2 separate regions of the Homo sapiens genome follow, and region 2 is linked to region 1. The links come from fine-mapping of genetic effects on gene expression. A gene starts in region 1. The other region holds a variant in brackets. All regions are shown on one strand. Distances are from middle to middle. Region 1 holds the start of TLCD4-RWDD3 (TLCD4-RWDD3 readthrough). Region 2 overlaps TLCD4-RWDD3 (TLCD4-RWDD3 readthrough).

The links. PIP is the estimated chance that this variant, and not a neighbour inherited with it, causes the effect.
Region 2: its variant is fine-mapped to the expression of TLCD4-RWDD3 in whole blood (INTERVAL, PIP 0.97).

Annotation. Positions count from the first base shown.
Region 1 is chr1:95,116,436-95,119,342 of GRCh38, forward strand. It overlaps TLCD4-RWDD3 (TLCD4-RWDD3 readthrough), which reads left to right and starts at 1,488. Exons shown (of 8, transcript NM_001199691.1): 1 at 1,488-1,656. TLCD4 (TLC domain containing 4) reads left to right here and starts at 920. Exons shown (of 7, transcript NM_152487.3): 1 at 920-1,182. RefSeq lists silencers at 927-1,073, 1,001-1,280, 1,361-1,410.
Region 2 is chr1:95,215,697-95,218,603 of GRCh38, forward strand. All of the region lies in intron 6 of TLCD4-RWDD3 (TLCD4-RWDD3 readthrough), which reads left to right. All of the region lies in intron 2 of RWDD3-DT (RWDD3 divergent transcript), which reads right to left. Among named protein-coding and RNA genes, the nearest start is that of RWDD3-DT, 17 kb to the right of the region's middle. RefSeq lists an enhancer at 919-1,419. The variant G/A (reference allele first, on the strand shown) is at 1,686.

The sequences.
Region 1 (2,907 bases):
TCAAATATGTTAGCTCTATTGACATTTCTTAGAAATAAATATCCTGTTATCAATGATAGTGTTTACAAATTATTTATTTAGAACTTACCTCTTTTCAAGAAAAGGCCTTGTGATTGCTCTCTGCGAATTATAATGCATGAGTATACCTCTTTGTTATTTTGTTTTGTTTCAGACAATTATCTCTGGTTGATGCAGATCACTTGGAGGCTTTTGGGGCTGTATATAACAGGTCAGAACATCTATTTAATGTCAAACTTTATCTACTAGGCAACTTGGAATTCTCAGCCAGCACCAAATATTCAAATCCAACTTCCACACCCCGACAACAGAGGGGTTCCGGGTGTAGGTGTAGTGCTGGTGCACCCATGAGGGTGTTTTTCAGGAATTCTGGAGGTGGTGCTGGAGAGAACACGCTTCTTCTACACGCGCCCCCTACCAGTTTGGTATGCACCTGCAGCCCCAAAGAAGAACTGGCGGGACTCGAGTGTGGCCGTGTCAGACGTGGCAAGAAAAACCAGCAGTTGCCTTTTCATCTCTTTTCTGATGATCTAACCATGAAGTCCCCAGTATTTGAGCATTTAAGGCAGAATGTAAATTCATAATTTAAGAAGATTTTTTGTTACGTGGCTAGCCCAGGTACTGACCGCTGCGGGGGCGGGCTCACACAGTTCCCCCGCTGGCAAGTTTTGTGACTTGCTTTGGAAAACCCGGGAATTGCACCCTCTGCCCTTGGCAAGGTGTGAGCTTCCAGGATCTCTCCGCTGCGACTTCGGGTGTTAGGGTTTTTGGGCTCTTTCCGGGACCCAAGTTCCAGGGCAAGAAGGTCTGCTCGGCGGCCCGCCTCGGGGCCCCGCCCACTTTGGCCAGGGTCGGAGCCGCCCGGAGCGGGAGCCGGAGCCCGAGCGGCCGCGGCCCCTTTAAGGAGCAGCTCTGCGGTAACCCGAGCCCGCAGTCCGGGCGGGCGCGACGGCCGCCGCGGTAGCTGGAGCCTCCGCGACTGCACCTCCAAGCGGCCCGGAACCCGCGGCTTCCCTGGCTCCCGTGAGCATCTCACCGGGCGGCACTGGCCAGCGCCAGCCCTCGGGCCGGCCCGGATGAGCAGACTCCTGTAGACACCCGCCGCCCTCTCCCGGCTCGGCGCAGCCGCCGCCCGCGCGCGACTCGCCCCGGGACCCGGCACAGGTGACGCCGTTTGGAGGGGGGGTTGGGGAGGAAGGCGGGCTTGCCTCGCCCCGCGGCTCCCCCGCGCCAGCCGCCAAGCGCAGCCCGCGGAGAGGGGTGCCGCGGCTTCCCGCCCCTGGCCTAGCGCGGCCGAGAGCTCCTGCGCCTGGAGGCTGGGTGGGCGTCCGGCGCGCGGGAGGCGGCCCGGGGCTCCCGGGCGGGCTCCGGCAGGTGTGTGCGGAAGGCTCAGCATCGTCCCCGCCCGGCGGGCCACGGCGTCGCTCCGGGAGCAAATGGTGTCCCGGGGCCCGCGGCCCCCGCGCCGCCCGGGCGCCCCGCATTCCTCTCGCGTTTCTCGGGCTGCACGATTCCGGCTGCCCTGTCTGCCTGGCGGTGCCTCTCGGGTCTGAGCTTAAAGCGGGTGGGTGCAAACCTTTGGGCATCCAGGGAGAGCTTTCTTGTTAGAGCCCACACACAATCGGGCGCATCAAGTGGGTAAGTCCCCCTCCCCCGCCGCCACCTTCTGAAACAAGTAGCTCTTATTTACCCTTGCAGTTCTCAAGTGGGTCCCATTTTTAGCCACTGAGTGCTGAAAAGTCTAGTGGGAAGGGACCAGGCGTAGAGTCGGAGGGAGAAATTGGTTTCTATTTCCATCTTTACCTCTGTAACCCCTAAGTGCCTCGGTTTACCCAGCCATGAAATGGGATTCGTAATGCCAGCAGTTTCCTACCCCTCCAAGACGGCAGAAAAACCTCTGTGAAAACACTTTGAGTCTAAATTCATTTAAGAGTCGCTGTTGCTGGTCTGTATATTTTTAATTGTACACACATTTGAGTGTTAATGTGGTGCACACTTTTATATGAAATTATGAAATTTACTTTAAAGACTGATCTTGGATAATGTTTAATCCAAATACCAGTTTGGAGAAGATGGAAGAGTTTGTGTGGACCCTAGGAATTGATGTGTGAAATAGGAAAAAAGATTTAATAAAATCTTTACGCAGTCATAAATGGAGTTGAGAAAAATTGACCTTGGATTGTGGTGTTTTAAGTGAGTTACTCCCGTGCCAGCGCATGGTGTCGATTGAAATGTAGCTTCATCTTTGTGTAGCCGATTAAGGTAATAAGTTAGAGAATCCCAGCTCCCTTTTAATTGTGCTATATATGAGGAATTTTTATCCTTGCTTATCTTTTCCTTAAATTGGGCGAAACGAAATTAGAAAAGTGTATTCCCGCCGTGTTAGAAAATATGAAAGAATGGGTGAAGAACCATGGATTTTAGTTTATTTGCCACGCCCCTCCTGTGCCATCTGATAACCCAGAGAATATTTTGAGGGTGCTTCTTTTTTTTTCTACGCCTGCAACTCCTTTTGTCCCATTACCTCCCTCTGGAGTTTGAATCTTTACTGTCCTCATCCTTGAGATGAATTTTATCTGTTTAGGCTGGATGCCTCTGACCCAGCTGCCCAATCAGTCATTATTTATTTACAGTATTAGATTTCCATTTATATTCATTTCACTCTAAGCCTTCTTTACCCTGGTGGAAAGAATAATGGGTCTTTGCTACTAATGCTTTATACTTGGAGGTGAACTAGGAATGGCATGCTCAAGGTGCTGAGACTAATGCAAACCCCAGGGAAGCTAGGTCTTCACTGGAGTCTTCTGAATAGGTCCTGGAGTACAGATGCAAGAGTTGGCCTGTCTTTTCCTTGATTTTCTGAAATCTCCACTGGGTAAATTCATCTGA
Region 2 (2,907 bases), 99 kb after region 1:
TCAAACTCATTCTCCCTCCAGTTTTGTTCCCTTGCTGGCGAGGAGTTGTGATTCTTTGGAGGAGAACAGGCATTCTGGTTTTTGGAATTTTCAGCCTTTCTGCTCTGGTTTCTCCCCATCTTTGTGGTTTTATCTACCTTTGGTCTTTGATGTTGGTGACCTATGGATGGGGTTTTGGTGTGGATGTCCTTTTTGTTGATGCTGATGCTTCTTCTGTTTGTTAGTTTTCCTTCTAACAGTCAGGCCCCTCAGCTGCAGGTCTGTTGGAGTTTGCTGGAGGTCCACTCCAGACCCTGTTTGCCTGGGTATCACCAGCGGAGGCTGCAGAACAGCAAATATTGCAGAATGGCAAATGTTTCTGCCTGATCCTTCCTCTGGAAGCTTCATCTCAGAGGGGCACCCACCAGATGCCAGCCAGAGCTCTATTGTATGAGGTGTCTGTCGGCCCCTACTGGGAGGTGTCTCCCAGTAAGGCTACCCGGGGGTCAGGGACCCACTTGAGGAGGCAGTCTGTCTGTTATCAGAGCTTGAACACCATGCTGGGAGAACCACTGCTGTCTTCAGCGCTGTCAGTCAGGGACGTTTAAGTCTGGAGAAGCTGTGCCCACCACTGCCCCTTCCCCCAGGTGCTCTGTCCCAGGGGGATGGGGGTTTTACGTATAAGTCCCTGAGTGGGGCAGCTGCCTTTTGTTCAGATATGCCCTGCCTACAGAGGTGGAACCTAAAGAGGCAGTCTGCCTTGCTGAACTGCGGTGGGCTCCACCCAGTTCGAGCTTCCTGGCAGCTCTGTTTACACTGTGAGCATAGAAGCTGCCTACTCACACCTCACCATGGCAGACGCCCCTCCGCCTGCCAAGCTCCAGCATCCCAGGTTGATCTCAGACTGCTGCACTAGCAGCGAGAATTTCAAGCCAATGAATCTTTGCTTGCTGGGCTCGGTGGGCATGGGGCCCACTGAGCCAGGCACTGGAGGGAATCTTCTGGTCTGCTGGTTGCGAAGACTGTGGGAAAAGTGCTGTATTTGGGCAGGAGTGTACTGTTCCTCCCACTACAGTGTCTCTCACGGCTTCCCTTGGCTAGGTAAGGGAAATCCCCTGACCCCTTGCGCTTCCTGGGTGAGGCGGCGCCCAGCCCTGCTTCGGCTTGCCTTCTGTGGGTTGCACCCACTGTCCAACCAGTCTCAATGAGATGAACCAGGTACCTCAGTTGGAAATGCAGAAATCACCCATCTTCTGTGTCAGTCTCACTGGGAGCTGCAGACCAGAGCTGTTCCTGTTCGGCTATCTTGGAAGAGTCCTCCTGCCACAGACTTTTAAACCATCAGATATTGTGAGAAGTTACTATCATGAGAACGGCATGGGGGAAATCTGCCCCCGTGATCCAATTACCTTCCACCAGGTGCCTCCCCTGACACATGGGGATTACAATTCCACATGAGATTTGGGTGGGGACATAGAGCCAAACCATATCAGAAGAGTTCCTCCTCAAAGAGTTCATAGTCTACTTGCAGCCACTTCCACTCTCCACTTGAATTCAAAAAGTTTCAGTTGATTTTTCAGATGACATGTACAACCAGATGCCAAGCTGGAGTTTCTCCCTTCTTTTAAGATCTAGACAGAATTGGATAGAAACACAACCCTAGTTTGATAGCCTATAAAAATCCAGACTTTCCCACAGTTTATTGA[G/A]AGAACCCAGAGGTAAAACTTGGTCCTTCTCTAATTTTCACAGAAAACCACCTGCACAGAGATGCTGTCTATATCTATTTGTAGACTTACTGTTGTAAACGAAGATAAAGGAAGAGATGATGTAAACAGGGCAAACCCCTCTGAAAGGAACTGTGGGCTCTTGCTTCCACAGATTAGCTCAGTATCTTGATCTTCTCACTGTCTGCAGTGCTGTATCCATCCTGCAGTACACACTGTAATTGCCATCCATAAGCTCAGGCTTCCCAAATGTGTGCAAGAGAGCAGCACCTGAGCTACATCTAATCAGATCCCTATTTGAACTCTCTTTTAAAACAAGTAAGGCAAAATCTTCCTTCTGTCTGGAGAAATCTCTTGTTTAGTGTAAATGTTTAATAGGTAATCATATAAGTAACATTAAAAAACATGCTGAAATGATTAGACAGGATAATAGACAACATAAAGCAATGTTTAATTACTTGGTAAGTACTGGCTGTGTGCCAATGTAGAGATCAACTATCAGGTGTGTGTATGTGTGACTTCCTCCCATTCTTTACATTACTTAAAGTCACTGAATCACATAAGCAATAATATAAATGTGTTTAGTATTTTACTTATATATAAGACAAAAATTGCCAATGCTGTCTAGCCAAAGACCACCAGGAACACACTTGTTATTGAACAAGTTGGATCTATTACTCTGGCAGTAAGGAAGAAGGCATTCCATGGGGAACATCCTCTTATGCTGGCTGCCACTCACCCTACATTTGCATAACTTAGAAGTTTATTCATATAACCCTTCTGAACAAGAAGCTCAAGTTCTATCACCTTTTAAAAGGCAAAAATAAAAAATGGTGAAAGGTGAGTATCTTGCTATATTAGTAAACGAGAAGGAGAGATAAAAGGAGAACCAAGGAGACTGTGGTAAGGAAACTGGAAGTTTTAAAGTAGTGAGTGATCAGTACTTTCAATCTTCCTCAGGTTAAGTAAGATGAAGACTGAGGAGAATCCACTGGATTTGGACTTTGAGTCACTGTTGGGTAGACACATGACTGCAGTGGTTTGAAGAGTGAGTGAGAGGTGAAGTAGAGGCTGCACTTGGCCCTCAGTATCCATACACTGTGCATCCATGTATTCAACCAACCTCAGATTGAAAATATTTTAAAAAATGTGCCTATATTGAACATGTATAGCTTTTTTTTCTTTCATTATACCCTAACCAATG